Homo sapiens: one gene and its partners. The protein of the gene in region 5 purifies or fractionates together with the protein of the main gene of each other region. This does not show direct contact. Each region holds a gene or a part of one and is shown on either strand. Other genes may lie near its edges. The genes, in order: TRDN, TMEM169, ADGRG5, TPST2 and LRRC8A.

The links.
Region 1: the proteins of LRRC8A (region 5) and TRDN purify together in Homo sapiens (co-immunoprecipitation; one large-scale study listed by IntAct). This does not show direct contact.
Region 2: the proteins of LRRC8A (region 5) and TMEM169 purify together in Homo sapiens (co-immunoprecipitation; one large-scale study listed by IntAct). This does not show direct contact.
Region 3: the proteins of LRRC8A (region 5) and ADGRG5 purify together in Homo sapiens (co-immunoprecipitation; one large-scale study listed by IntAct). This does not show direct contact.
Region 4: the proteins of LRRC8A (region 5) and TPST2 purify together in Homo sapiens (co-immunoprecipitation; one large-scale study listed by IntAct). This does not show direct contact.

The regions. Positions count from the first base shown.
Region 1 is NC_000006.12:123,541,325-123,547,590, forward strand, and holds part of TRDN (triadin), read right to left. Parts: intron 6,049-6,266; coding exon 6,016-6,048; intron 1-6,015. UniProt on the Homo sapiens protein: Contributes to the regulation of lumenal Ca2+ release via the sarcoplasmic reticulum calcium release channels RYR1 and RYR2, a key step in triggering skeletal and heart muscle contraction.
Region 2 is NC_000002.12:216,086,502-216,092,767, reverse strand, and holds part of TMEM169 (transmembrane protein 169), read right to left. Parts: intron 1-6,266.
Region 3 is NC_000016.10:57,545,643-57,551,908, forward strand, and holds part of ADGRG5 (adhesion G-protein coupled receptor G5 isoform 1 precursor), read left to right. Parts: intron 1-6,266. UniProt on the Homo sapiens protein: Orphan adhesion G-protein coupled receptor (aGPCR). Ligand binding causes a conformation change that triggers signaling via guanine nucleotide-binding proteins (G proteins) and modulates the activity of downstream effectors, such as adenylate cyclase.
Region 4 is NC_000022.11:26,530,214-26,536,479, forward strand, and holds part of TPST2 (protein-tyrosine sulfotransferase 2), read right to left. Parts: coding exon 6,075-6,266; intron 2,533-6,074; coding exon 2,482-2,532; intron 1-2,481. UniProt on the Homo sapiens protein: Catalyzes the O-sulfation of tyrosine residues within acidic motifs of polypeptides, using 3'-phosphoadenylyl sulfate (PAPS) as cosubstrate.
Region 5 is NC_000009.12:128,884,904-128,891,169, reverse strand, and holds part of LRRC8A (volume-regulated anion channel subunit LRRC8A), read right to left. Parts: exon of another isoform or gene 5,782-6,266; intron 5,156-5,781; 5' UTR 5,049-5,155; intron 1-5,048. UniProt on the Homo sapiens protein: Essential component of the volume-regulated anion channel (VRAC, also named VSOAC channel), an anion channel required to maintain a constant cell volume in response to extracellular or intracellular osmotic changes.

The DNA of each region.
Region 1 (6,266 bases), on a different chromosome or scaffold from region 5:
TCCTGGGTCACTTTGCGTGCCTTGACAAAGATGAGCTCTTTTAGTAGCACGAAGTACTACAGCTGCCTGAGTCAGTGGGCTCAGAGTTTACTTCTTAGCAACTACCTGGAGAAGTGACTGGATCCTAAATCTCCTTTGATCTCGCCCTCCTCAGCCTTTTTCATTTTGAGCCAACCTCCATACCTACTGTCTATTCTCTCTGGGCTTTGTCCCCCTCTCACCCCCATCACAGGTCTGCTCCATGCTTGGGAAAGACAGGTAGAAGATAAAGCTCTAAGCTCCTCATGCAGCCTGAGAGCGATATGCGATGGTGCAGTTATGGAGATGAGCTTTGATCTAGATTTATTTAGAGGAGACATCCAAAGATAAATGTATACTTAACAATGTTACTAGGGCTACCTAGTAACCAATATTCTGAGGCTATGAATTTTAACAAGTTTAGTCATCTTTCCATTCTCCTTCCTTTTTTCATGCACCGTATTTTTCAGACACTTAATGTTCAGCCTGGTGTAAACCACTGAATCTGCTGGCAAAGATGGATGCAATGAAAGCTCTGACACACACATACGTCTATCCATCTTACTCCCGATGACATGATACAACCTTCTGAATGGCCTAATCCTAAAGTCTTGAATATTTATGATGCTTAAATTTTCTGGCTCTTTCTCATTCGCTCAGACTGCAAGAGCTATTGTGGATTGTAATAAAGTAAGAAAAATACACAACGAAAGAACTGAGTTAAAATTTACCAGGCAGCTCTTTTCAACTTGCAGAGCTTTAGGGAAATTTAAACATGCGACTATAGGGGGAATTGTAATTTGTTTTGCTGTAAGTGAGGAATCTCTTCCTCTGCCATTGACATGCATCAAGTACAATCTCATAGAACATCATCCTCTATATTGGGTCTAGCTTATCCTTAAGGACAATTTCTTATTTCAAAGAGAAAGTAGTTAGCAAGAAAGGAAATTAAACATAATGTAGATTGGCTTCTGGTGTTTTCCTCTAAGGCAAGAGATAAACCTATAGCCCATAAGGCCACCATGGTCCTAAAATTAAAGATCAGTTTCTCCTGTCCAAAAAACTAAATATGCATAACTCTGAATGACTACGATTATTCTTTCTTAACTTTAAAGCTAGATGTCAGGAAAAGACATTACAAAACCTAATTCCTTGTTAGGAGCCTATTATTATCTTCTAAAATTACATATTCCAAAGGATATAAATGCTGTAATTATTATTCTTATATACAGATATATTATAGATGGAGGTTTAAGTGAGAATAAACTGTAAAAAGGAGATAGAGATAGGTGTATCTGTTAAGTTGCACTTAAAAGTGTTAATACCAGTATTTTATTAGTAAAATAAACCAGTCATAAACCAGTATTTTATCTTTGAACATAAATAGAGAAAAACACTAAGATACCTATGCTGAAAAAAACATATATTTTTTAACTTTGCTTTAAGACTTTTGGGTTTTCGCTCTCTCTCTTTCTCTCCCTCCCTTTTTCTTTCTCTCTGAGTGTGTGCATGTTTGCGTGTGTGTGTGTGTGTGTGTGTGTGTGTCTGTCTGTCTGTCACTGCGTCTGGCCCTGGTTTTAACTTTAACTTTGGGTCTTTATGAATAATTAAGGGAATTAAAATTTATATTTCTAAAAAATAGATATCATTACTATTATTCACATTTTCATATGCTTTCAGTTCAATTTATTAATAACATCATATAAAGATTTACCCTCTTCTTTATCAAATATACAATGCCCCAACTATTCTAGCTTATTTACTGCCTTATTTGATCATGTATTCATTAAATTTTTAACTGTGGTATTTGCAGGACATTTTACTAAGTAAGGTGATCTTTTACACCTTTGCAATTACGTAAGCTATAAAATAACATGTTGCATTGATCCTGATGCTAGCAATACCACATCAAAACTCCATTACTGTCATTTACTATTTTATTTAATAAATGTTCATCATTAGTCTTTGGGAATGTGGTAAGCAAATAGTACATGTTCTCTTCCACCAGCTCATTGCTTGGCTCATAGAAAACACTTGAAAAAGATTAATTGAAAAAAATACATTTGTTGATTGAGTTTAATCCCAGAAGGCATAAAACATGTCCGAATTCTGTATTAGTGATTAGCTAAGGATATACATTGTACCGTCGTGAATCTTAGACCTCTGTGCTTTGCTCTCACTCAGAAACCTAGGAGTTACCCAGAAAGCAAAATGTTTATTTTCTATTACAATCATGCTCAATTTTTTCCCTTTTATATTTCTTAGAAATTTTGCAAAACTCTGCATCCCTTCCTACAAGTTCTAAAATTTTTCATCATAAGTTGAAGGATTACAAGTGATATAATTTATAGATTATTGTAAATGTTGACATTTAAAAATAAAGTTGCCATATCCCTTTTAAAAACTGAGTTGATGGACTCCAAACACTATAATATTTTTAGATGTCATTATCAACTTAAAATATTTATCAAAAAATTATTTCTTAACATTTGGAAGGTTTTCATCTTTCTCTTTTCTCTTTGAATTCATATTTTCATTCCACCTCTCTCACGAAAATTTTACCCAAGAGCTACATTATGATTCTCTAAGGAAAAAAGTGTACATATTGAAAATTTTAAATTTCCTCCATATTCTGTGATTTCACATCCTGTAATATATTAACCTTTAGACTATAAGAATCTAAGAATCTAAAGGTTAATATATTGCAAATCTTCATAAGTTATTATTAAACCTGAAAAATGAATTTTTTTTAGAATGCCATCGAATGAATGGAGCTTTAAAATCACCTATCTGTGGATTAATGTATTTTACAGTTAGAATGAGACAGCGTTCATCAATAAATCTAACCCTATATTTTACTTTTAAAGATACAAGTATTGAGAAGCCTTATGCACATCTGTACATACACACACACACACACACACACACACACACACACACACACACACACAGTCTTATTGGGGCAATGTTACTTAATTTTTTTGTCTCCTTCCAAGTAACGTTGAATACCACAAAGAACCAACAACAGATTTATTTATATTTGAAGTGGAAATAGTACGGTTATAAACCGGGCATGCTCTCAAGCAGATCAATTTTAGGAAAACATTCAAATGACATTCAATTCCTTTAAATCTCTCTGCAGTTTTATACCCCTTAGAAAGTGAGGTGCTAACAGATCCATGATGTATACCCTGGTGTGAAAAATATTGCTTAAAAGCACACTTCCAGATGTGCAAAGTATACCACTATACACAACAAATAATTTTTTCCGAAAATGTGATTTATAACAGTATTTGGTTTTCATACTTATAATTTTTAGACAACTATGTAATAAAATATAGTATTTTCTAAAGATTCAGTGCCTTGGGGTCTCATCATGAAGTGTTTAGTAATAGAACTTAGTATTTTAAAATTTTGACAAGTTGAAAAATATGCATGAAGAATATAAAGACACTAGGTACTACATGTAATACCCTGAAGCTATATTTATATATAACAACAGATTCCACAGGCTAGCAGAATCAAATATTTCATCCATATTAATAATCTGTTTAATAATCAATACTGCAACCCTGAGATTAGTCGACTACACCATTATTCCATACCAAATTAAAAACTGCAAACTTCAACCATAAATAACAAACTGGCTGAATTTTTATTTTGTTAAGAATAGCAGTAACTCAACAAATAAAACTAAGTGTATTCAAATAAAATGTTTTAGGTAGATATAGGGCAGTTGAATAAAAAAATGCTACAGCCTGATAATTTAGGCAATAAAAAATGACTAAATATTATTGAATATATATGAATTGAGAAGGGTATTAATGAAGAGTCATTTAGATGTGTAAAAATCAAATGTTTTAAAAGACTATCATTCTACATTGCCCCCAAATTCCTTCTTAAACCAACATTTGTAAATGTAAACATGAGTAAAATAACTTATAAGACAAGAATAATTTATAGAATTTCTCCCCAATAATAATGTTAAAAGTATACTTAAAATGTAGAATATGTATTATAAATGTTTTATAAAATATTACCTACTGCTTTAAAGCTCTCATTGCCTCTATACTTCCATGAAAGAAAAGCTTACACATAAAAAATAATAATTACAATGAAATAGATCTTCTTGAATTCACTTTCAACTAAGGTTTATTATTACATAGCCTCTGTACCCAAGATAGAGCATCTGAGATTTTTACTTAAATGTCAATTTTTTTCATGTAACTGTGTGAATAATACTATTAAGAAAATATATTCAGGTGATTTAAAGTCAATTCTCCTAATTCTGAGTATGTAATCTTTAAGGACATTAGTGCACATGTGTTGAAGGACATATATCCCTTAGACTATTTTTGACTAATAAACATTTCTAACATTTTTTAAAAGTACCCTAAACAACTATTTAATAGTTTTTCTGGCAAAAATTTGATTTGCTGAATCAAGGAAATAATTTAAGAAACAATAGTAAAACAGCTTTGTATGAATTTGCAGTTTATACTAATTACTATATGAAGCTTAATTTTAAAATAATTTCAAAGAAAAATTTAAATCAAAAGAAAAGATTTTTTATTAAATAGTAAATATCAATTTATGAAAAACATGGCTTTATAATAGTCTTATGGAATTCAGTTTATAAGTATAAATGAGCAAACATTATTTATCTGTTTTCCCTTCTTCCATTTCCAATGAAAATAAACGTGCATAAGCTGTTATTTCCAGATAATGACTAATAACTCACTTAAAGCTTGACTATGTTCACTCTCTATGGGAAATCAGCTATAAATCTCTTGAAGTTTATAGACAAATCTAGAATCTCTAAACCTGGATTTGATGGCTGAAGTCTGTCTTGAGTACTTGAGTTCTCATTCTGGATTTGCAGGTGTATAAACCCTTCCTTTCTCCTCACAGAGCTTTATAAACACTTTCATTTCTGGATGCCTTTGCCATAGTTGAGTTTGACTGGCTTAGCTCTTTTTTGCTGTGTAAGTTACAAATCCAAAGTTTCTAATTTAACATACACTAAGTGGATTTTACCCCAGATAGTGTGGGGTAGTCATCATTTTCTCAGGGAAGGCTGAAACTGTAAGTTTGGATCCCATTGTTTGAATCCACAGTAGGTATTAGGAGAGAGCAACAGAAGCCAGGGTTATCTTCCTGGGTAAACCCTCAACAGCCTGCCCATGTGTAGCAGTAACTAAAACACTGCAATTGTTTTAAGTCTGGCTTGAATGTTGGCTGTTTTCTCACAACAAATGTACCTCAAGATGGTACTACCTGCTCCCCAGTGCCCCTTCCAGATGCAGTTCCTACCCCTTCCTGTCAAAATCTCTGTCTTCTGAAATTCCTGCCCCATTGCTGTCCTCCTTTGTCCTAGGTTTATCGTTCTTATCATTCAGGTTGTGACCACTTCACTCAGTCACCTTATCTATTCCTGCAAGTAATTCCTCTACAGCACATCCAGGCACATCCAGGTAACTCCACTCCATGACAGTGACACATCACACATACCAACTGGATATGCCTTTGCCTCCTAGGCTGTTATGTCCCTCACCGTCTTGTTGTCCTGGCCCATAGTCATCACCTAACATGCAAAATAATGATGGCAAAAAAAATAAAAGGAAAAGAATAAGAATAAACATTTAAAATCAATAAATCTGACCATGGTGAGAATAAATCATGGGTGTCATTTTCTGGGCCATTTCTAAGGCTACAGAATTCTCCCCTCATTCCTCAAATTCCAGCTCATATTGGTCTGTGTATAAATGAATCCATACAAATCTACTGAATAAGGCATTTAAAAAATAATCAACAGAAAAGTAGTGAGATCACCTTCATTGGAAAAGAAATTGAGTATTTTTTTTCTGACTATAAATCTTGACCTAATTATTAAACAAAACCTTTATATTAAAATAAGTAAAATATATTTGAACCATGCTGAAAACCAATATTACCATAAGAGAAAAATAATTATTATCAAAGGTGAAAACAACTAACCTTTTTTTCTCAAGGGAGGCTCATCTATTTCTCCTAGACCAAGATTAAAAGAAAAACAAAGTTAGAAAATATTTTAGCATAGAATAATATGACATCATTATTTTCCCCTTTTGTTTATTTAAAAAAATCTATTAGTTTTAACAATCATAGTCTTTACATTACTTTGCTTCCCAAATTCCAGTTTTTAAGTATAAAGTTTGTTTATATACATTTATATAAGATTGTTTCATTTTTATGAATTCAATAAAATT
Region 2 (6,266 bases), on a different chromosome or scaffold from region 5:
GGCCCTTCTATACAGCATGAATTTTCAAACTAGGGGTTGAGACCCCGAGGAGATTAAAGGACCAGAGCTTCAGAGCTGGGAGAAGGTTTATGTTCTGTACTCCTTACTCCTTCTTTAAAGATGTACCAAGATGTTCAGAAGGGAGACAGAAATGTTAAAGAGTACACGTGAGAAGGCAAGTTGCAAATCTCATACTTCTTGTTCCCTTTTCCTCTCTCTTTGTTGAGGGGGTGGTGCTCTAGGAAGATGTGGCAGGGCAAAGTGAACACATGCATGGAGATGATGACCCTTATTAATGGGCCTTATAAACATTAAAAAGTGGCCAAGTGCGGTGGCTCATGCCTGTAATCCCAGCACTTTGGGAGATCAAGGCGGGCGAATCACTCAAAAAAAGAATTAATTTAATTAAAAAAAAACATAAAAAGGTGTAGTGTTCGACACTCTTGATTTGGTTGGGCACAATGGGAGAGGCCAATGTTAGATAACAGGAAGAGCTTCCTGAGCCCAGGGACAGACTAGTACAGAAAATAGTAGCTAAGAGAAGCTTTGGAGTCTCTTGGGGATATAAAAGATAAACATGGTCATCTTGTTGGCTGATGGAGGAGAGGGACAATCCTATCAGAGGCAAAAAGAGAGATGACTTTTGAACATCCCATTAAAACCTTAGACAAGAAATATGAAATGTAAAGGGTGAGCTCCTGGCTATTCACCTTAGGGGGGCTATTTTTGCTTCAGGCACAGCTCATTTTAGAAAGGTGCCCAGCCAATGTCTACTTACAGTAGTCACAGGACAGAGACACTGTCCTTGATTTACCTTGAAACATGATTTCCTCATCTCCCTACAATTAGAACACTATCCTTTGAGACTACAAAACATTCCCACAAACTTAGGAAAAGATGGGTTATTTTGTAGTCATGGTAAGTAGACAATAGAACCAGTTTTAAACCTGTTCAATTGATCAACAACAATCTCCCTCAGTGTCTTAGTGCATTTGGGCTGCCATAAGAAAATACCATAGACTAGGTAGCTTATAAACAACAAGAATTTATTTTGTACAGTTCTGGGAGCAAAAAATCCAAGATCAAGTTTAGGGGTTTGGTAGGACTCACTTTCTGGTTCATAGATGGTGCCTTCTCACTGTGTTTTCACGTGGCTGAAGGAGCTGACTAGCTCTCTGGGTCTCTCTCTTTTTTTTTTTTTTTTTTTTTTTGAGATGGAGTCTCACTCTGTCGCATAGGCTGGAGTGCAGTGGCGCAATCTTGGCTCACTGCAACCTCTGCCTCCCAAGTTCAAGCAATTCTCCTGCCTCAGCCTCCCAATTAGCTGGGACTACAGGCACACGCCACCATGCCCAGCTAATTTTTGTATTTTTAGTAGAGATGGGGTTTCGCCATATTGGCCAGGCTGCTCTCAAACTCATGATCCGCCCGCCTTGGCCTTCCAAAGTGCTGGGATTACAGGTGTGAGCCACTGAGCCTAGCCTCTGGGTCTCTTTTATGGGGGCACTAATCCCATTCCTGAGGACTCCACCGTCATGACATAAAGCCTCACCTAATGCCATCACTTTGGGGGCTGAAATTTCAACATATGGATTTGGGGGGAAAACAAACCATACCATAACACTCAGCAAACATGTTTTTGGAAATTAACCCATCCAGTCAGTCCTTTGTTTCTGAAAGTCAATCAGGTGAGTGGCTCTGTCCCTGTTTGGCTGACTTTCACACTAGTGTGAGTTGACTTTTGGCCAATCAGGGTCTGGCACTCTGATGATGGCTTTCAAAAATGTATTCACTTAGGCAGTTGTTGATTGAACATGTTTAAAACTAGTTCTGGTGGCTACTTGTTATCAAGGCTACTGTAAAAACAGTGTTTTCCTAAATTTGGGGATCCTTTTTACTGTTAGTTTCCTGCAAGTCTGGAATATATCAGATGTCACAGTACAAGAATATGAATTATCTGTTGTGATGTAACAAATTACCCAAGAAGTAAAGGTTTAAAACAATAAAAAAGTTATTATCTCACACAATTATGTGCGTCAATAAACTGGGAGTGCCTTAGCTGGGTGGTGAGTAGTCTTCTCTACCTGCTTCCTGCCTATAGAATTTGGAGGTCCAAAAGTGTTTTTTTGTTTTTATGGTTTCTGAACCTTTTAGTATTCTGTGAATAGAATTTTCTCAACATTTCTGTGGGATTCCTATAAATAGTTTCTCTGAGTCAGAAGTGTGAGAGTGGCTTAGCTGGTTTTGTTTCAAGATCTCTAAAGATGTCAGGGCTGCAGTCATCTGAAGGCTTGAATGAGGCTAGATCTGCTTCCAAGATGGTTCACTCATGTAATGCTGACTCAGTTTCTCTCCACATGGGCCTCTCCATGGGCCATCTGAGTGTCCTTACAACAGTGGCTGGCCTTCCCCAGCATGAGTGGTCTGAAAACAGGTATTTTCTTTGACCACCCCAACTTGACTCTTGATCCCCATCTCTTCCTCATCTTTGATTTCCTCCTTCTCCAATAGCTCCAACTTCCTTCTACTGGCTCTTTCCCCTTTGCCTTCAAACTCAGAGTTCCTTATCTAGAAAAAAATAACTTTACCTTGCCACTTTACTCTCTCTGATAATCTCATTTTTCTCCAACCAAGCTTTTCTATCAAATAGTTTATAGCCACTCATATCCAGTTCATCCTGCAATCTTCTGCCCTTTCTCCCCACTCCCAACCTCTGTACACACACAGACACACACACATGCACGCACGCACACGCGCAAGTCACTTGCAAAGATGAGAAATAGGCCAGGAAATTAGCATTTATTGAGCCTTATGTGTCAGGCTGTAAGGTAAACTCTTTATAGATGTTCTCTTACTTGCATCTCTCAACAAGCTTGACAGGTAGGTCTTATTTTCCACACTTGACCTATTAGGTTCAATGCGTTAAATATAGCAGTGAGAGAACTTGGGTTTAATTCTATACTTGCATAACTCTAAAGTCCAGGATTTCCCCACCAAGATTTAGAAGAAGTCAAGGCCAGGTGTGGTGGCTCATGCCCGTAATCCCAGCATTTTGGAAGGGCAAGATGGGCGGATCACTTGAGGTCAGGAATTCAAGACCAGCCTGGCCAACATGGTGAAACCCTGTCTCTACTAAAAATACAAGTAGCTTGGCGTGGTTGTGCACGCCTGTAATCCCAGCTACTCAGGAGGCTGAGGCAGGAGAATCGCTTGAACCTGGGAGGTGGAGGTTGCAGTGAGCTGAGATCGTGCCACTGCATCCAGTCTGGGCGAGAGAGTGAGACTCTGTCTCAAAAATAAAATCAGTAAAATAAAATAAAATGAAAATTAAAAATAGAAGTAGTCAAGTGGTAGTAGCTGCAGTGAACAGCTGATGGTTTTTGGTTTTTTGGTTCTGTTGTTTGCTGTCCAAAACCCTATTTCTCCTTCATTTGATGACAGATCCACTCATTTTGGTGAGAAACAGTCTTGAAAGTCCCTGATGTGATCACAGTGACCACTTCACCATTCTTATTCTCCTTGTCACACCAAAGCTGTTGATTCCACTAATTCCCAAATCTTTCTTGAACCTTCCCTCACCTCCTTTAACTTTCTACTCTCATTCTCTTTTACCTCTCAAACCTTCCTTCTGTTTCTTTTGCTCCCTTATCTGCTTTCTCCAACCCATAATTGCCAGTGTTTTCTAGGCCCGATTCTTAATTCATTGTCCTCTATTCTCAACAGCACACTCTGTTCCTCTTGTTAAAATATACAGCCTTCCTGCACACAGCTGTAGGACCACTTCTATGCCAAGAACGCCCAAATGTAGATCTCAAGATTGTATCTCCAATAGCCTGGCGAATATTTTCTAATTGAATTATTTAGCAAAGCATGTTCAAACCAAACTCATCTTTATTTACAGCAGAGAACCTCTCAGTGTTACCGAGAAAAAAGGAGAAGGGGGAAAGGAAAGGAGAAAGGGATAAAGAAGGAAACACCACAACATTTATGGAATTTACCGATTGTGTAATTTGGTAGGTTCTGTGTTGATTATACAGTACATGCATTATCTCACTGAATTACACATTCAAAAAATATTTACGTATTCATTTATTTTTAGAGATGGGGTCTTTCTATGTTGCCCAGGCTTGACTTGAACTCCTAGGCTCAAGCAATCCTCTCACCTCAGCCTCCTGAGTAGCTGGGACTACAGTCATGTGCAACTGTGCCCAGCTTCAGTAAATATTTATTAAGCAACACTATGTGCTATATATTGCATAGTTGTTCTAGGTACAACAATTTTTGTCTGTTTGTTTGTTTGTTTTGAGACGGAGTCTCGCTCTGTCGCCCAAGCTGGAGTGTAGTGGCGTGATCTCAGCCCACTGCAAGCTCCGCCTCCCGGGTTCACGCCATTCTCCTGCCTCAGCCTCTTGAGTAGCTGGGACTACAGGCGCCCACCACCACGCCCGGCTAATTTTTTGTATTTCTTTTTTAGTAGAGACGGGGTTTCACCGTGTTAGCCAGGATGGTCTCGATCTCCTGACCTTGTGATCTGCCCGCCTCGGTCTCCCAAAGTGCTGGGATTACAGGCGTGAGCCACTGCACCCGGCCTGTTTGTTTTTTTTTTTTTTGAGACAGAGTCTCGCTTGGTCACCCAGGCTGGAGTGCAGTTGTGCAATGTCAGCTCACTGCAACCTCAGCCTCCAGGTTCAAGCGATTTTCGTGCCTCTGCCTCCTGAGTAGCTGGGACCACAGGCATACACCACCATGTGCAATTAATTTTTGTACTTTTAGTACAGACAGGGTTTCACCATGTTGGCCAGGCTAGTCTCCAACTCCTGACCTCAAGTGATCCATCTGCCTCGGCCTCCCAAAGTGCTGGGATTACAGGTGTGAGCCACCATACCAGCCTAGGTACAACAATTTTATGAAGCAAGTATTATTTTGCAGAAGAGGACACTTGGACTGAATAATAGTAACAACAGAAACTTATTGGATGTTTATTGTGTGCCAAGTGCTGCTCTAAGTACTTTACAATAATCGTATTGTTCAATATTCACAGCAAACCAGTGAAGTAGGTACCTTTATTATTCCCATTTAGAGGAGAAATTTGCTCAAGCTTACATAGCTAGTATAGTGGTGGGACTGGAACTGACACCCAGGTTTGCTAATTTCAAAGCCCATGTTATTTTCATTGTGCCATACTACCCGCCAACATTTATGCAAAGATCTATAAACTTCTAGAATGTTCTTTGATGAACCCATTTCCTATATTAAGGACATATTTCCATATACCTAATAATAATTAGTCTCTAAGTCCTGCTAGTCATTCCTATGAAATCTTTTTGTTAATTTGTTCATTTGAATTTCTACTACCACCATATGCCAGAATACAGCCTTCATACTACTTCCTCTAAACTGGAAGACATTCTAAAATGGAAGACATTCCTCTACCATTTTTTACCATATTAATGGTGATTAATAAACAAAACAAAACAATATTTTTATTTTGTCTTGCCATTACTGACTAAAATATATCTGAAGGCCTGTCTGGTGTTTGAGGCTCTCCGTATTTGCACCCCACCCTAGGATTCAGTAGCAATTTTCCCCTTCCCTTTCCTGCAACGTGACTACTCAACACATGTGCTTATGTTGGTTTCTTCATCTTTGTCACGCTTCTCCACATCTTTCAAGCCTGGCTCAAGACAGACTCATTCGCTCACGTCCCCTTCTGTGACTACCCCAGCCCCCACGTCCTCTCCTCCCACCCTAACCCTGTGTTGCAGGTGTGTGGTGAGAATTCAATGAATGGCCCAGTATAAAATGCCTAATATGTGACTGACACTTCATAAATATTAGTTTCTATTCCCTTTCTTTTGCCTCCTTCTATTTGTAATTTAATAGCATTTGCCATCTGAACCATACACTTAATACTTAATTATGCAGCATTTCATATCATTGTATAGATTATAGATGGCATCATGAGTTTTCATTCATCTTTCTAGGTAGATAACAAACTTCTAGAGTTTAGGAACTGTCTTACTCTTCTTCTTAACCACCAATGGGAAAACCCCAGGGCTGGACATGTAGTACAAAGTCAGTATGTACTTGTTGACTTCATAGGACACAGAAGAGAAAATGTCTTACCAGAAATATGACATAAACAACTGTTAAGAAAGAAAGGCTTGATTCTCTTCCCCATTTTTGTATACTTTATTATGCTGTAAGTATTTGATCTGAGAAGCAGGTTCTAAACATTTCTCCTTCCTTTTAGATTTCACAAGAGA
Region 3 (6,266 bases), on a different chromosome or scaffold from region 5:
TTTCCATGTCAATAAGAGCAGAGCTTCCACTTTTTCATCTGCATATTCTAATGTTGTAGGAATAAGTTACAGTTTATTTAATTAGTCCCGTGTTCATAGATATTTGTGCTGGTTCTAGTTATTTGCTCTTACAAACAATGTAGCTGTGCTTATATTATTTCTCACATGTGCAAGTTCACCATTTATTTATTTTTATTTTTTGAGACAGAGTCTTGCTCTGTCACCCAGGCTGGAGTGCAGTGATGTGATCTCTGCTAACTGCAACCTCTGCCTCCCGGGTTCAAACGATTCTCCTGGCTCAGCCTCCCGAGTAGCTGGGATTACAGGCACGCTCCACTGCGCCTGACTAATTTTTGTATTTTTAGTAGAGACAGAGTTTCACCTTGTTGGCCAGGCTGGTCTTGAACTCCTGACCTCAGGTGAGCCTCCTGCCTCGGCCTCCCAAAGTGCTGGGATTACAGGTGTGAGCCACCGTGTCTGGCTCTATTTATTTATTTTTGATACAGGGTCTCATTCTGTCACACAAGCTGGAGTGCAGTGCCACCATCATAGCTCACTGCAGCCTCAAACTCCTGGGCTCACGTGATCCTCTCACCTCAGCATCCCAAGCAGCTGAAACTACTGGGTGCATGGCACCATGCTCAGCTAATGTTTCTGATTTTTAGTAGAGACAAGATCTTGCTATGTTGCTTAGGCTGGTCTCGAATTCCTGAGCTCAAATGATCCTCCTGCCTCAGCCTACCAAAGCGCTGAGATTACAGGTATGAGCTACCACGCCCCGCCATTTGCCCATTTTTATATTGGGTTAGACTTTTCCTTATCAATTTCTAGAAACTTTTACATAATGGGAAAATCAGCTCTTGTCTATTGTACATATATAAAACTATTACATGCAAATATTTTTCCTAATTTGTCACTTGTCTTTTAACATTACATATGGCCTTCTTTTGGCCAGGTAGAAGTGTCTTTTTAAATAATTTTTATGTAATAAAATGTATCTGTATTTTCTCTTTTGGCTTCTGGATTTTGAGTCATAGCTAGAAAAACCTTCCCCACTCCAGTGTTTTCTTATTTGGTTTCTGTTTTTTGTTTTTGAGACAGGGTTTTGATCTGTCACCCAGGCTGGAGTGCAGTGGCACAATCATAGCTCACTGCAGCCTCAACCTCCCGGGCTCAAGTGATCCTCCCACCTCAGCCTCCCAAGTAGCTGGGACTACAGGTGTGCGCCACCATGCCCAGCTAATATTTTGTAGAGATGGGGGTCTTGCTGTGTTGCCCAGGGTGGTCTCCATCTCCTGGGCTCAAGTGATCCTCCTGCCTTGGCCTCCCAAAGTGCTGGGATTACAGGTGTGAGCCACTGCACCTGGCCTGTCCAGATTTTGCATGTAATAAAATATATGGATTTTTTTTCAAGAATGGGATTAGGTTGTTTTGCAATGTGCTTTCTGTCTTTCATGAGCAATATGCCACTATTATTTCTTCCATATTGATAGTCATTTGGAGCATTTAAAAATCCTATTAAAATATTTGTGTTTTTTTTGTTGTTGTCATGAAGGTAATATGTTTGTTGTAGAAAATTTAAACAATACAGAAAATATAAAAGGAAGTTTTGAAAACACCTCTCCCCTCAAAAAAGCATTATTAACATTTTGGTGGCCACCCTTCTAGAGCTCCCAATATGCTTCAGCATGCATACAAACATAATTTTTCATAAATGAGATTATGTGTGTTATTTTCAACCTGTCCTTTCCACTCAGTGATATGCTGTGCTCTTCTTTTACATGGCTTTGTTTTTTGTTTGTTTTTGGTTTTGTTTTTTTTGAGACGGAGTCTCGCTCTGTGGCCAGGCTGGAGTGCAGTGGCGCGATCTCGGCTCACTGCAACCTCCGCCTACTGGGTTCAAGCGATTCTCCTGCCTCAGCCTCCTGAGTAGCTGGGATTACAGGCGCCTGCCACCAAACCCAGCTAATTTTTTTGTATTTTTAGTAGAGACGCGGTTTCATCATGTTGACCAGGATGGTCTCAATCTCCTGACCTTGTGATCCGCGCCTGCCTCGGCCTCCCAGAGTGCTGGGATTACAGGCGTGAGCCACTGCGCCCAGCCTGTTTTTTGTTTTTTGTTTTTGGAGAAGAGTCTCACTCTGTCATCCTGGCTGGAGTGCAGAGGTGCCATCATAGCTCACTGAAGCATTGAACTCCTGGACTCAAGCAGTCCTCTTGCCTCAGCCTCCTGAGTAGCTAGGATTACACGTGTGCCAACACGCCTGGCTAATTTTTATATTTTTAGTAGAGATGGGGTTTTTCCATGTTGCCCAGGCTGGTCTTGAACTCCTGACCTCAAGTGATTTGCCCACCTAGGCCTCCCAGCGTGCTGGGATTACAGGTATGAGCCACCACGCCTGGCCTCAAAATATTTTTTAGAGAAAGGGTCTCACTATGTTGCCTAGGCTGGTCTTGAACTCCTGGCCTCAAGCGATTCTCCTGCCTTAGTTTAGGATTACAGGTGCAAACCATGGTGCCTGGCTATACACATCTTTTTTTTTTTTTTTTTAAAGAATACACATAATTCTTAATAGTGAAATGACAATCTGTTGCATATTTTAACTTTTAATTTTGAGAAAATTATAAATGCACAGAAGGTTGCAAAAAATAGTACAGAACGTTTTGTATACCCTTCACTTATTCTCCAGTAGTAACATCTTGCATGCCTATAGTATAATATCAAAGCCAGGAAATTGTCTTTGGTATAGTTCACAGACTTCATTCTGTATTATACTCACTCATTTATGTATGCCGGTTCTTTGGTAAGTATATTTTAACTTTATAAGAAACTGCCAAATGGTTTTCCTTGCAATTTTATGACATGATAAAATAAAAGATTCCTGTAAACAACACCACGATCAAGACACAGAACTGTTCCATCGCCACAAGGATCCCTTGTGCGAGACCTTTAAAGAAACACACTCCCCCTCCCTAACCCTTTGCAACCACTAATCTGTTCTCCATCTTTATCATTTTGTCATTTCAAGACTGTTAAATAAATTGAATCACACAGCATGCAACATTTTGAGATTGGCTTTTTTTTTTTTTTTTTTGGCTCATGATAATTCCTTTAAGATCCATCCAAGTTGTGTGTGTCAGTAGCTTTTTTTTAGAAATTCATTTTTTTAACTGCTGAGAATTGTATTTCAGAGTGTAAAGGTATCACCATTTAACCATTTTCACCCACTTTGAGGCTATCATGAATAAAGCTGCTATGACTCTTCATATACAGGTTTTTGTGTGAACACGAGGTTTCATTTCTCTGGGATAAAAGCCCAAGAGTGCAATTATTGGGTCATATGATAGGTACATGTTTAGTTTTATAAGAAACTGTCGAACTGTTTTCCAGAATGGCATTGGAGTGTAATTTATTTATTCCTCTATTGATAGACATTCACATAGCTTTCAACTTTTCTTTATTAACAATACTATTCTAAATATTCTTGTATGTGTATAATCCTGGCTTGCCCTATTCTTTCCATAGGATAAATTCATAAGAATGAGTTTCCTGGCTTAAAGGATATTCAGAACGTAAAGTTCGAATGTGTTGCTAAGCCGTCCCCTTGCAGATGAGGCTCAGATCTTAGACAGAGAGTGCAGGAATGTGCCTGTCCCTACAGACTCACTGGGTGCTATCATATTTCAGATCTTTGCAGATCCAATGGTGGAAAAATGAGAACTCATGTTCTTAACTACTTTCCTCTGCCACTACCATCAAACACATATTTTGAGTTTTGTGGCTCTCCCTCTTGAAGCCTTGCAAGTTTTTGTTGACTTCCTTTCTCTAAGAGGAGGATCATCAGTTCTCTTGCCCTCCCTCCCCTATTTCCTCTTCTTCATCCTCTTAATATGTTTTTTGATTGGATTTCTAAAGTCTTGTCTATAGAGGTATACATACAATAAAATTCACCCTTTTGGAGAGGAGTTTTTGCATTTTGACAGATGTGTACAGTCATGTATACATGTATATTACAATCAAAATATAGAACATTGCTGTCCCCTGAAAAGTTGTCTCAGGCCCTTTTGTAGTTAATATCTTTTCCCTACTCCCTGGCAACTACTGATTTGTTCTCTGATCCAATAGTTTTGACTTTTCTAGATTCCACTTCCATGTTACATTCCCTCCAGAAATGAATGAGGCTTCCAGCTGTTCTATATCCTCATAATACTTTGTATTACCATTTTAATCCTAGTCATTCTAGAAGGTGTGTAGTGATATCTGATTGTGGTTTTTATATGCATTTCTCTAATGACTAATGATATTGAGTGTTTCTCATGTGCTTATTTGCATCTATACATTTTTTTTTTTAACATGTAGTTCCAGCTCTGTCACCCAGGCTGAAATGCAGTGGCATGATCTCAGCTCACTGCAGCCTCCTCCTCCTGGGTTGAAGCAATTCTCCTGCCTTAGACTCTTGAGCAGCTAGGATTACAGGCACATGCTACCACACCTGGCTAATTGTTGTATTTTTAGTAGAGACAGGGGTTTCACCATGTTGGCCAGGCTGGTTTCAAACTCCTGACCTTGGGTGACCCACCCGCCTCGGCCTCCCAAAGTGCTGGGATTACAGGCATGAGCCACCGCGCCCGGCCCATCTATATACATCTTCATTGGTATAGTGATTGTTCAAATCTTTTCCTATATTTATTGGGTTGTTTGTCCTCTTATTAGTTGTGTAAGAGTTCTTTATGTAGTCCAGATACAATTTTTTAAAAACATCAGATATGTGTTTGTAAATATTTTCTCCCAGTCTGTGGCTTATCTTCTCGTTTTGCTAACCATGACTTTCAAAAAGCAGAAGTTTTAATTTTGATGAAATTCAACTTATCAGTTTTTTGTTGTTGTTGTTGCCATGGATCACGTTTTTGGTGTTGTTTCTAAGAAATCTTTGCATAACCTAAGTCAGAAGGATTTTCTTTTTTGTTTTTTCCAAGGAGTTTTACAGGCATATCTTGGAGATATTGTGGGTTTGGTTTTAGACCACCACAGTAAAGCAAATATGGTAATAAAGTGAGTCACACAAATTGTTTGGTTTCCCAGTGCATATAAAAGTGATGCTTACGGCCAGGCACGGTGGCTCATGTCTGTAATCCCAGCACTTTGGGAGGCCGAGGCGGGCGGATCATGAGGTCAGGAGATCGAGACCATCCTGGCCAACATGGTGAAACCCCATCTCTACTAAAAATACAAAAATTAGCCGAGCATGGTGGTGTGTGCCTGTAATCCCATCTACTTGGGAGGCTGAGGCAGGAGAATCACTTGAACCTGTGAGGTGGAGGCGGAGGTTGCAGTGAGCTGAGATCGCACCACTGCATTCCAGCCTGGGCAACAGAGCGAGACTGTCTCACACATGAAAAAAGTTATGTTTACATTATACTGTAGTCTATTTAGTGTACAAAAGCATTATGTCTAAAAATGTACATACCTTAGTTAAAGGACACTTTATTGCTAAAAAGTACTAGCAATCTATCTGAGCCTTCAACAAATCACACGCTTTTTTGCTGGTGGAAAGTCTTGCCTTGATGCTGATCAAGGTGGTGGTGGTTGAAGGTTGGGGTGGCTGGCTGTTTCTTAAGACAGCAGTGAAGTTTGCCACATCAGTTGACTCTTCCTTTCATAAGATGTTTTTCTGTAGCATGTGATGCTGTTTGATAGTATTTTACTCACGGTAGAGCTTCATTCAAAATTGGAGTCCGTCCTCTCAAACCCTGCAGGGGCTTTATCCACTACATTTATTTAATATTCTAAATCTTTTGTTGTCATTTCCACAGTGTTCACCATATCTTCACCAGGAGTAGATTCCATTTCAAAAAACCACTCATTGTTCATCTATGAGAAGCGACTCCCCATCCATTCAAGTTTGATCATGAGACTGCAGCAATTCAGTCACATCTTCAGGATCCACTACTAATTCTAGTTCTCTTGCTATTCTAATCACATCTGTAATTACTTTCCCCACTGAAGTTTTGAACCCCTCAAAGTCGTCCATGAAGCATGGAATCAACCTCTTCCAAACTCCTGTTAATGTTGATATTTTGACTTCTTCCCATGAATCACAATCACATGTTCTTGCAGCATCTAGAAGGGTGAATCTTTTCCAGATTTTCAATTTACTTTGCCCTGATCCATCAGAGAAATCACTATCTATGACAGCTATAGCCTTATGAAATTTGTTTCCTAAATAATAAGACTTGAAGGTCGAAATGACTCCTTGATCCATGGG
Region 4 (6,266 bases), on a different chromosome or scaffold from region 5:
CAGGCATGCCACTGCACCCAACTCCTGCGTGTTGCCTTTTTTTGTCCACCTGAATATGCATTTTTACATTAGTTGCAATTGTATAGTATGAGCTGCTTTGTTTTGCTTTCTTACTATTTTTTCATCATTTGGGTTTCACTAGCACCATTTTGGATGGCTACAGATATTCTGTGGAGTGCATGTACCACCGTTTACTGACTGCTTACCTAAGAATGGTTCCAATTTTTGCAGTATTTTAAATGACATCACATCCTGATTCTGCCTCTCTTCTGTTGGGTACTGAAGCTCTACTGAATCATTCCCTTAGAATTCACTTCTAAAAAATGGAATCATGCTTGAACCCGGGAGGTGGAGGTTGCAGTGGGCTGAGATGGCGCCACTGCACTCCAGCCTGGGTGACACAGTGAAACCCCATCTCAAAAAAAAAAAGGAATCAGCAGGAGCAGGTGGAAGGGTTCAGATCTTTTGAAGACTCTTGAACAACAAGGCTAAAAGTGTTTTACAAAAGGGTTGGGGTCAGGAGCAGTGGCTCACGCCTGTAATCCCAGCATTTTGGGAGGCCGAGGTGGGTGGATCACTTGAGGTCAGGAGTTCGAGACCAGCCTGGCCAACATGGCGAAACCCCTTTCTACTAAAAATACAAAAATTAGCCAGGCGTGGTGGCCGGTGCCTGTAATCCCAGCTACTTGAGAGGCTGAGGCAGGAGAATTGCTTGAACCTGGGAGGCAGAAGCCGCAGTGAGCCGAGATCACCGCATTGCACTCCAGCCTGGGCAACAAGAGGAAAACTCCATCTCAAAAACAAAAACAAAAACAAAAACAAAAGGGTTGGGCCAGTTTATACTTCCTGCCGTGTATGACATATGCAAGATGTCTAGCTGACCTGGGACTGGTTTTTGTTGCTTTTAGGAACAAAATATGAAGGAATGGCATACCCCCACGCTCAGGAGGGCTGCCCTGCAGATAAGTTTTGTCAAGCCTCTATTTCCAACCCTCATCTCCCTACTGTCCTCCACTGTGCACATAATGTCATTCTGGATGTTGTAAAAACTGGAAATGGTCTTGAAGAAGCTGTTTAGTAAATGGTAGCACATGCATTCCACAGAACACTACGTAGCCATCCAAAATGGTGCCGGTGAAACTCAAAAGATAGGAAAATATTAAGAAAGCAAAACAAGGCAGTTTGAACATGAAAATTGCAATGAACATTCCTGTAAATCACATTGGGGTAGAAACAAAGAAAAATATAATTGCAACGAATGCAAAAGTGCATACGCACTCCAGAGGTTTCGGCCACACTCCCCACTTTCAGGCGTTTACAGTTCCCTCTGCCGGGAAGCCTTTTCTATCCAGATCTTTGTGTGGCAGACCTAGTTTTAATCCTTCAGATATTGGCTTATGGGTGCTTTCCAATATCAGTGACCAATTCTCTGATTATCTGGATACCAACTGGGTGTTCAACAATTCAGTTCAGTTCTGACACCAGCTCCCAGACTTACTTAGCATCAGCTGCCACAGATTAAGGGCCCAGTTCCACGACTGCCCCACTTTAGATGCCAGCTGCAATGGGGTGCGCAGGCTATCCACACTTCTTCCCAGCCAACTTCAAATCTGGAGGTTCCCACAACCCCCACTCTGGTTTGATAATTCACTAGAACAGCTCACAAGACACTAGGGAAAACACTTTACTAACTGCTACCTGTTTATTATAAATAATACAACTCAAGCTTGGACAACATGCCAAAACCCTGTCTCTACAAAAAACACAAAAATTAGCCGGGCATGATGGTGTGTGTCTGTAGTCTCAGCTTCTTGAGGGGCTGAGGTGAGAGGATTGCTTGAGCCCAGGAGATTGAGGCTGCAGTGAGCCATGATCACACCACTGCACTCCAGTCTCAACAAGAAAGAAAGCCCAAGAAAAAGTCCCCACGAAGTCCCTCCAACTGCATTCAAGCCGGAAGACGAAGTGAGAGGCTGCTTCCTGGCAGAAGGGCCACTGAGATGTGGCCCCAGCTGGATCAGTGCTTAGAGACCCTCTGGTCCAGCACGCATCCCCACAGCCCTTTATTTTTTATTTTTATTTTTTGAGATGGAGTCTCGCTCTGTCGCTCGGGCTACAGTGCAACGGCGTGATCTCAGCTCACTGCGACCTCTGCCTCCCAGGGTCAAGCGATTCTCCTGCCTCAGCCTCCCAAGTAGCTGGGATTACAGGTGTGTGCCACTACGCCCGGATAATTTTTGTATTTTTAGTAGAGACGGGGTTTCACCGTTTTGGTCAGGCTGGTCTTGAACTCCTGACCTCGTGATCTGCCTGCCTTGGCCTCCCAAAGTGCTGGGATTACAGGCAGCCAGCTCACATCCCCCTTTTTATAATGGGAAAACCATCAACCAGAGTGGAGAAGTGACACATCTAAGGGCATACAGCCAGATGGTGGTATAGCTGAGAAAGACAGAATTCGGAATTCCCCTTGGGGTTTCTAACCTGAAAATATCCTTTCAGATTGGCTGGTGTTTTATAGTCCCCTTTCAAGACCTAAGGAAGAGAAAAAGAAATATCACTATTATGAAAATGGCCAAAAAATAAAATTTAGTCATTCCCAACACATCCAGTCATCCACCCATCCACCTCGCCACCCACCCATCCCTCCATCCAACAAACATTGCTTAAGCTCCTCTTCTTCTAGGCATTATTCTAAGCATTGTGTCTGGTTGACATGATGTTAACCAGATAATGGAAATTCCTGTTCCCCTGGAGCTACCATTCTAGAGGGGGCACCAGATAACATACAAGAAAAATAAACACAGATAAACAAGGACATAGCAAACCATGGGAACTGTTGTGAAAAAAGTACAGTAAAGAGGTGGGATTAGGAGTAACCAGGGGGCTTCTTTTGAGTGGGTGGTCAAGAGGGGACTCTTGGGCCAGGCGCAGTGACTCATGCCTGTAATCTCAGCACTTCTGGAGGCCAAGGCAGGAGGATCACTTGAGTCCAGCAGTTTGAGATCAGCCTGGGAAACACACTGAAACCCCATTTCTAAAAAATTAAAAATTAGCTGGGCATGGTGGCATGCACTTATCGTCCCAGCTGCTCTGGAGCTACTCCAGCCTCAGCTGGAGGATTGGTTGAGCCCGGGAGGTTGAGGCTGCAGTGAAGTATGATCACATCACTCCACTCTAGCCTGAGTGACAGAGCGAGACCCTGTCTCTAAGAAAGTGAATAAATAAAAATAAAAAGGGCCTCTTGAAATAGATAACCTTTGAGCTGAGACCCAAACGACAAGGAAAAATAGGTAGGCTAAGCTCAGAAGAAAAAGCACTCCAGGCAGAGGCAACAGAGCAAAGGCCCTGAAGTTAGAACCACAACATTTCAGGCCTTTCCGCTAGTAGTCACATTTTAAAATAAAATGAAACAAGGGAGATTAATTCTAACAATATCTTTTATTTAACCTGATATAGCTAATTTTTTTTTTTTTCTATTGAGACATGGTCTCACTCCCATAGCCCAAGCTGGAGTGCAGTGGTGCGATCACGGCTCACTGCAGCCTCCACTTCCCAGCCTCAGGTGATTCTCCCACCTCAGCCTTCTGAGTAGCTGGGACTATAGGCACGTGCCACCATGCCTGGCTAATATTCAATATTTTTAGTAGAGATGAGGTTTCACCATGTTACCCAGGCTGGTCTCAAACTCCTAGGCTAAGCAGTCTGCCTGCCTTGGCCTCCAAAAGTGCTAGGATTATAGACATGAGCCATCATGTCCAGCCTATGTAAAATATTAACATTTCAATATGTAATTTATATAAAAGTGACTAATAAGAAACGTTACATACTTTTTTGTCCTAAGCCTTCAAAATCTAGTGTGTATTTTACACCTAACAGGACCTCTCACTTTGGACTAGCCTCCTGTTACAGAATCAGGGGCCACACATGGCTAGTGGCTACCGTATGGGACACTGCAGGCAGAGACGATTTCATCAGCATAGATGTCCTTTTAGCCACTGTGTTTACTGAGCCCCAGGATCCATTATTGGAACACACAGGGTCCACAGCACTCACAGAAGCACACAGGCATGCATGCAAACTCACAGGGCTTAGTGAGAGGACTTTTCTTTGCAGTAACAGCCAAGCTATGGCAAAAACTAAACCAGGGATCTAGCACTTGCCAAGACTTGTTGACCGCCCCAGGGAAGAAATCTCTTTGGATGAAAATGAGAGACAGCTTCCATTTTAAATAAACAAACACAAAAAGCTCCAAAGAGTTGATGTTAACCACCAGTGCTCATGAAAATTATTTGTGTTTTATAAAATACATAAAGTCAGGCTTTACTCCAGGAACGTCCGACCCATAGCCTGGGGCAAGCCAGGGGCAGCGAGCCACCTTTTAAGGAGACCCCAGAGGAGCCACTGCTGGGCCCTTGGCTGAGAACAGTGAAGTAAGCAACATCCAGCCCACTACTGCAGTGTCCCCAGCCGGCCCTCGCCTCTGCTTCTGAGAAGCACCTGGGGCTGGATTGTGAGATCACTACCATCTTTTTAATCCAGTTAATTAATTTTTTATTTTGATAATACATGTACAACCCACAGGCAGATAAAAGTATGTAAAACACATAAGTAGGGTTTAAAGATTACTATTATTAAAGAATAATAAAATAAAAATTAATAATATTTATAATAAAAATAACAAACCACATCTGGGTTGCAGCCATTCACCTGTCAATGTCGGCTGGTATGTACGTTGAATCTCTGAGTATTTCCATAAATAGATGTCTGCAAAATCAACTAATGTCAAGAGGAAGAGGAACTCACGAGACCCACAGACAAAGCTTACACTTCAATTACAAGGGCACAGCCCCCAAAGCTCAGCGTTAGTAAATTCTCTTTGTTAAAGAGAGATCAGTGAGTGCTAGAGAGGTGGTAATGACTTTTTAGCACCAAATGGAAACTTTCTTCTTGAGCCAACTGAAGAGTTACGGAACTAAGAGACGATTAACTTTTTTCCGTTGTGATTCAATACGATAACTGTTTATTTCCTAAAATCAGCACACGCTCAGAAATGCTGAGCTTAGCTTAAATTAAAGACTCTGGGTCTTAATGAAGTAAGGGCTGTGAAAGCTCTTCCTCAGGCCTGGGTCCCATTTTCAAATATTTGCCTATAAGGAAGTTAGAACACAGCACTTAAAGTAAACTAGAAGCTGTAATGGAAACGTATAAATAAGGCCATCAACTTGTTAACTGTTCTTTTACCCAGTGGGTGTTAGCCTACTTTAACACTTCAAAAGCATTTTGTCAGTCACTGGAGGCTCACACCTGTAATCTCAGCACTTTGGGAAGAGTGAAGCAGGGGCATCCCTTACGGCCAGGAGTTCTAGACCAGCCTGGGCAACGTAGCGAGACCCCGCCTTTATAAAAATTAAAATTAGCTGTGCATGGTGGCGTGCACCTGCAGTCCTAGCTACTCAGGAGCCTGGGGTGAGAGGATGGCTTAAGCCGAGAAGTATCAGGCTGCAGTAGCTATGACTGCACCAGTGCACCCAGCTTGGGCAACAGAGCAAGACCATGCCTCAAACAAAACAGTACAAAACAAAAAAGTCATTTCCCTTCACCATCTTAACTAAGGAGAATTTTAAGCATAATTTAAACAGCCCTAAACTCACATTTGTCTGAGAAATCCACATTAAACCTTATAAGACAAGAAAGGGACCAATAGTTTATTTATTTATACCCCCTCTCAACAAAGACTTGAGGTGCCTTACAAACAGATAAACAAATAGCCAGGGAAATAGGGGTAAAAATGTAAATAAAATTAGAGAAATAAGATGAAATTAGTGTACAAGCTGGCCTGCTGTTAGATGTTAGAGTATGAGAGACAGGCTACCAGTTGGCTTTGAGCTTCCCTGCAGCCCAAGCAAAATGGAAATACAAGCAATCATGTAGTTCACTGTGTCCATCAGACAGGAACAAATCAGATGACCAGGAATTGAGAGACTGAACATTTCCTCAGGTGGCTGGAGTTTCCACATCTGCAGAAGCCCCATATCCCCAAGAGTACACTTCCACAAGTACAGGTGCACACTCACCCGCTGTGTGTTGTTGATGACGAAGGGGTCAGGGTTGCCATAGTTGGGGGGGTTTGCATAAGGGTCATAGCCGAGCTGAGCCAGCATGGGGGCGATCTGGGCCATGTCCCGCACCACATCCCCAGGGATGTGGCCAGTCCACTTGGAGAGCGCTTCCAGGTTAACAGGCTTGATGACCTGGTCCGTGGACCG
Region 5 (6,266 bases):
CTCCCAAGTAGCTGGGATTACAGGTGCATGTCACCATACCCGGCTGATTTTTGTATTTTTTAGTAGAAACGGGGTTTCACCATGTTGGCCAGGCTGGTCTTGAACTCCTGACCTCAGGTGATCCACCTGCCTCAGCCTCCCAAAGTGCTGAGCCACTGTGCCTGGACTAATTTTTTTTTTATTTTTGTAGAGACAGGTCACTATGTTGCCCAGGCTGGTCTGGAACTCCTGGGCTCAAGCAATCCTCCACCTCAGCCTCCCAAAGTGCTGGGATTACTGGTGGGAACCGCCACGTCCAGCCAACGTTTGTTGGCTCATATTTGCACATGGAGTCACGGCCACACACGGTTTACAGGTCTTAACCTGTTATGAATACCAGCGCTGCCTTCTTAGACAGGTTATGAAATGTGGCCACCAGTACCCTAGAGAGGCAGCAGACACATCTTCTGCTGAGATCCCAGGGGAGTGGGCACTGGCCAAGCCCTAGGTGAGCCAGGGGGAGGACTGGGGGGTCTGACAGAGGGTGAGCTGCCTGGTACCCGACTCTCTGGGATGGAAGGGGGCTACCCCCAGGGATCCTGACTCATGGAGTCAGCTGGGAGATGCGAGGTGTCCCTTCAGGGCCAGGATTCCCGCCCACCGCCCCCGCTGCTGGTCAGTGCGTTTGTCATGCTGCCCGTCAGAGGGCGCAGGTTTGGCAGTGGCACTCTGACGGCGTCCAGGTGGCACGTGAAAGCTATGGAATTTTACAGCCACTTTTACTCCACTGGAACATTGCTCTAGGCGTGAGGCTTAGATTGCAGCAAGCAATTTAATTTTGAGGTTTTAAGCCCTCAAGAGACGTTTAGATGTAGACAAACTTGCTGCAAGACGCAAGACGCAACAGAAACGCATCTGGAAGACAGCAGGGAACATTTGTGGCTGGGAGTAAAAGCCCTTCTAGAAACCTCAGCCCCACACGTCCTTGAGGAGGGAAGGTTAAGCCCCTCGCCTTCCCAGCACACACACACACACACACACACACACACACACACACACAAAATGAAGCCACTAAAAAACAACTGTCTGGCCAGGTGCGGTGGCTCACACCTGTAATCCCAGCACTTTGGGAGGCCGAGGTGGGTGGATCACCTGAGGTCAGGAGTTCGAGACCAGCCTGACCAACAAGGTGAAACCCCGTCTCTACTAAAAATACAAAAATTAGCCAGGCGTGGTGGTGCACATCTGTAATCCCAGCTACTTGGGAGGCTGAGACAGGAGAATCACTTGAACCCAGGAGGCAGAGGCTGCAATGAGCCAAGATGGCACCATTGCACTCCAGTCTGGGCAACAGAGCAGGATTCCATCTCAAAAAAGTAAAATTAAATTAAAAAAATTGGCCAGGCGCAGTGGCTCACGGCTGTAGTCCTGGAACTTTGGAGAACAAGGTGGGTGGATCACAAGGTCAGGAGATCGAGACCAGCCATGGCCAATATGGTGACACCCCGTCTCTACTAAAAATACAAAAATTAGCTGGGCATGGTGGCGGGCACCTGTAGTCCCAGCTACTCGGGAGGCTGAGGCAGGAGAATAGCTTGAACCTGGGAGGTGGAGGTTGCAGTGAGCAAGATTGTGCCACTGCACTCCAGCCTGGGTGACAGAGCAACACTCCATCTCAAAATAATTAATTAATTAATTAAACAAAAAAAAAAAAACCTGTCCAGTCCCAGTCCTGTGGGGAGCTCAGCCCTGCTTCCACACCAAGGGCATGAGTTCTGCGGTAGACGACTGGGACTAAGGCTGAAAGAATGGCGTCCGGTCAGTGTTTCTCAGCATTGTTTGTAGCCCACCAGCCTCACAACTGCTGGGGAAGCATCTTCAAAGTTCAGATTCCTGGGGCCAACCTTCCAGGGCAGACTCTGCAGGTCTGTGGTGGTGGGCCCAGGGGAACAGCATTTTAGACAAGCTTCCAGGTGACTTTGAAGGCCCCCAAAAGCCTGGGAACCTGAGAAAAGAGGGTAATGGAGGGTGAAGTAGAAAGAGCCCCAGCTGCCAAGCCATACCAACCTGGGTTCAAGTCCTAGCTTTGCCACATGTACACTGTATAACTTTGGGCCAGAGACCTCATCCCTCTGGGGCTTGGTCTGTAAAATGGTAAAGCAACCTCACACGCAAGGCTGTGGCGAAGGTAAGATGGGCAAATGCGTGCAGCATCCCAGCCTGTGGCTCAGCACTGAGACATGGTGCTGAGAATGACCACGGACTATGAAGGTGCTACTGCAGGAAGGAGAAGCCAGAGACGCTGAGCACCATCTGTGGAGGGGCCAGCTCTGCAGCTCTCTCCCAAGCAGTGTATGGGAGAGAAAAGAGACTCCTGGGGAAGAATGGAGGAAGTGACGTGGGGGAGGGAAAGCGACAGGACAGTGAGCCTGAAAAACACAGGTGAGATGTCAGGAGCTCTGGCACAGACCTCACTCCCAGCGCGATCCTGCCAGACGCTCTCGCAGCCCCGCAAAACGAGGCTGCCACGCCTGTATGCTCTCCTTGCCCAAACCCTTCCTGAGGTCAGCTATACCCCAAAAGAGAGCATCTTTGGACCCAGGTGGCAGGGTGGGCCCTCCTCCTGCTCCTCACCTGCCCACTCTCAGAACTAAAACTTGAAAGGAGCATGCCAAAAGGACCACAACCAACACTTCCTCCAGATACAGCAAGGGTAAACTGAGTCAGGGTCTGCCTGTTCCTTCCTATCCCCAGGAAGGGCTGGGCTCAGGAGAACAATGGCTCAGACTCAATTTGTCTCAGCTTGATTCATGTGTGTCCCCTGAACCCAGGTGGTGGGTGGAGGCCAAAACCCCTCAGGCCGGCCCATGCGGTTCATTCCACGCCATCCTTGGCAAAAAGGAGGAATTATGATCTGACAAGCAGGACCTGCTGCTTCCTGCTCAGCGCTGCCCAGCATGAAAGACTACAGCTCAGGCCTCCCCTCTCTCCAGGGGACAGAGTTCCTCAAAACCAACAGGAAACTCCTATGGGGCAGAGCCAGGAGTTGGCTGACCTTATCCCATAAACAGGAGAGTCGACACAATCACACACCAGGCACTTCCGACCTCCCTCTGCTGCTGTAAATGCCCAAACAGCTCAAAACTCCCAGCATGTGAGGGGGAGGGGCCAGGGGGGCTCAAGGGTGTGCATTCTGCCAGGACCACACACAGCTCTATCTACCTCTTGCATGGGAAAGAGGTCCAGGGGAGCCGGGCGCGGTGGCTCATGCCTATAATCCCAGCACTTTGGGAGGCCAAGGCGGCGGATCACAAGGTCAGGAGATCAAGACCATCCTGGCTAACATGGTGAAACCCCGTCTCTACTAAAAATACAAAAAAAATTAGCCGGGCGTGGTGGCGGGCGCCTGTAGTCCCAGCTACTCGGGAGGCTGAGGCAGGAGAATGGAGTGAACCCGGGAGGCAGAGCTTGCAGTGAGCTGAGATTGTGCCACTGCACTCCAGCCTGGGTGACAAAGACTCCATCTCAAAAAAAAAAGAGGTCCGGGGGATATCATTATATGAAACAAAAGCAAACTGTGAATCAGCAACTCAAACATGACCAGATTTTTATAAAAATAAGCAAATGGTAACAATAGATGTGGAAGAATATACCCCTTCCCATTCACACCTCTGAAGATGAGAATCAGCAGAGACTCATTTCCTAGATGACATTAAAGATCCAAACAGGTCTGGCATGGTGGCTCACACCCATAATCCCAGCACTTTAGGAGGCCAAGGCAGGAGCATCTCTTGAACCCAGGAGTTCGAGACCAGCCTGGGCAATGTAGAGAGGCTCTATCTCCATAATAAATAAATAAATAAAATTAGCTGGGCACAGTAGTGCACACCTGCAGTCCCAGCTAGTTGGGAGGCTGAGGCAGGAGGATCGCTGGAGCCTTGGAGATCGAGGCTGCAGTGAGTCATGATGGTGCCACTGCACTCCAGCCTGGGCAACAGAGTGAGACCCTGTCCCCCAAAAATAGCCAAACAGTATAAAACCATATAATGAATATACAACTATGTTGGTAATTACAAAAAAAAAAAATTACTATTTCTTTTAAAATCCAGGCTGGGAGACTCAGGCCTTCCTTCACACAAAAAACTGAGGTGAGAGATAAAGGCAGGAAGGCCTCAGGGCAGACAACAGAAGACCCTGGCCCAGGATTCCAGGGTCTGGATTCAAGCCGCATGTCCTTGCCTTCTTTACAGATGAGTCTGGGCAAGCTGCTTCCTCACTCTGATTCTCAGTTTCCACATCTGTAAACTGGAGATAATGGCCACTGCCTAAGCATCCTCAAATGGTCAAATGAGATCACCGACCTGAGTATGTCTGGCAAATTACACAGCCGTCTATACACACACCAGCTATGACTCGGGACCACCTTCTAGGACATGCACTCTGCCAACTGCCTGCTCTATGTCAACATATTTAATCCTCCAAATGTTCTAAAGGGACTCTCCTGCCTCTGGGAACTGTTTTCCAAAGCACAGGCCAAGGAATCCCAGTCCCCAAAGATGTCTACACGATCAAATAAGTGTGGGGAAACACGAGTCGCTAGCTCCCTTATCGTGATCAGCTCAATCCTGATGACGGCTCTGATTCAAGACTCTGATAAGTCCTGCAGCAAGGATAACAAGAAGTCTTTGTTTCCTGGAATTATCAAACCACTGTGACCGAAGAAACTGGTGTCTCATGGAACACACTTGGGAAACGTGGTCCACGCTTTTTGGGAAATGTGGTCATGAGGCTGCATTAGCAAGACCCAGACTGATAAGATCTGGGGTGAAGGAGAAAAAACAGAGGTTTGCAATGAAACAACTCAGCATTCAATGAGTGCGGCAAGCACACATTACTCAGCGGGAGAAGGAGGAAGAGAGTAATTCTGCTGTCTGCCACTCTACCCTGGACCTACAGCAAGAAAAGCAAAGGACTGTGGGGATGGAGATGCTACCCTTTGCTCCCCAGGCTGGGAAGGGCACTTGACTGGAGCTGGAGCTGGCTGAGAAGGAGAGGGGCCCAGTCCTTACCCCAAGGATGGCTCTGCTATCTGCGCGTCGGCTGTCGGTGCTGAGGCTGGCCCGCGTCTGCCTGTGCAGGATCCTGGCATTCCTTTTGCTCCATGGACGCTGCCTCCCTACAAGGAAGCGAGAGCTGCCGTCAGCAGGCACATGTGTGACTGTCGCAGTTACCTGCCACACCGCCAGCACTTCCTGAGAGCCTGCTTGGTAGCAGGCCCTTGGCTGGGCTCTGGGGTGACAAAAGAGGTTTTTTTTGTATAGTGGTGCAATCTCGGTTCACTGCAACCTCCGCCTCCCGCATTCAAGTGATTCTCCTGCCTCAGCCTCTCGAGTAGATGGGATTTCAGGTGCGCACCACCAAGCCTGGCTAATTTTTTGTATTTTTAGTAGAGACAGCGTTTCCCCATGTTAGCCAGGCTGCTCTCAAACTCCTAACCTCCAGGGATCTGCCCGCCTCGGCCTCCCAAAGTATTGGGATTACAGGCATGAGCCACCGCGCCTGGCAGACAAAAGAGGTTCTGACAGAGCACCTCCCTCCAGAACCTGGTCTACTGAGGAGGTGCCAAGTCAGTAGCGACGGTCTGAGAGCTCAGAGCTCTGCTGCGGGGGAGCCAGGAGAAGCACTAGACCCAGACTAGTGGGGTCAGGGAAGGCTTTCTGGAGGAGGAGTTGTCTGAGTTGACTCCTAAGAGTAGGAGCTGGAAAAAGAGCATTCCAGGCAGGAGGAACAGCACATGTTTACCTGGAGGAGAGAGTACATGGCATCTGGAGAAGGCTTGCGGGCTCGGCATGGCGAGATCCAGAGCCAGAGAGGGGAAGTGGCAAGAGATGAGCCACAGTGGGGTGGCTGGGTCAGGCAGAGACCAGCCAGTGCCCAGACTCCAACTTAAACACCAAATCCACCCATCATCTCCGACAGTCAACCAGCCTCTGGTGAGCATCTACTCCATATGCGCCAGACACTGTGCAGAACTGTGCATGGGAGTGGCAGGGTAGGGAAAGCTGTGATCACTACGACACGGGTTTCGGGGAGCCAGGAGCTGGGAGAGTGGCCCAGCCACCAGAGAGAGCCAAAGGATCAGCAGGAGTTACCCAGGAAGGAGGAGGGCGGGGGTAGACAAAGACACCTGGACTGATCTAGGAGGGATGGCTGTTTTTCCATCATTTCTACCACTGGGTATTTACTATATTGACTAAGTTCCAGGCCCTGTGCTGGGAGGGCAGACA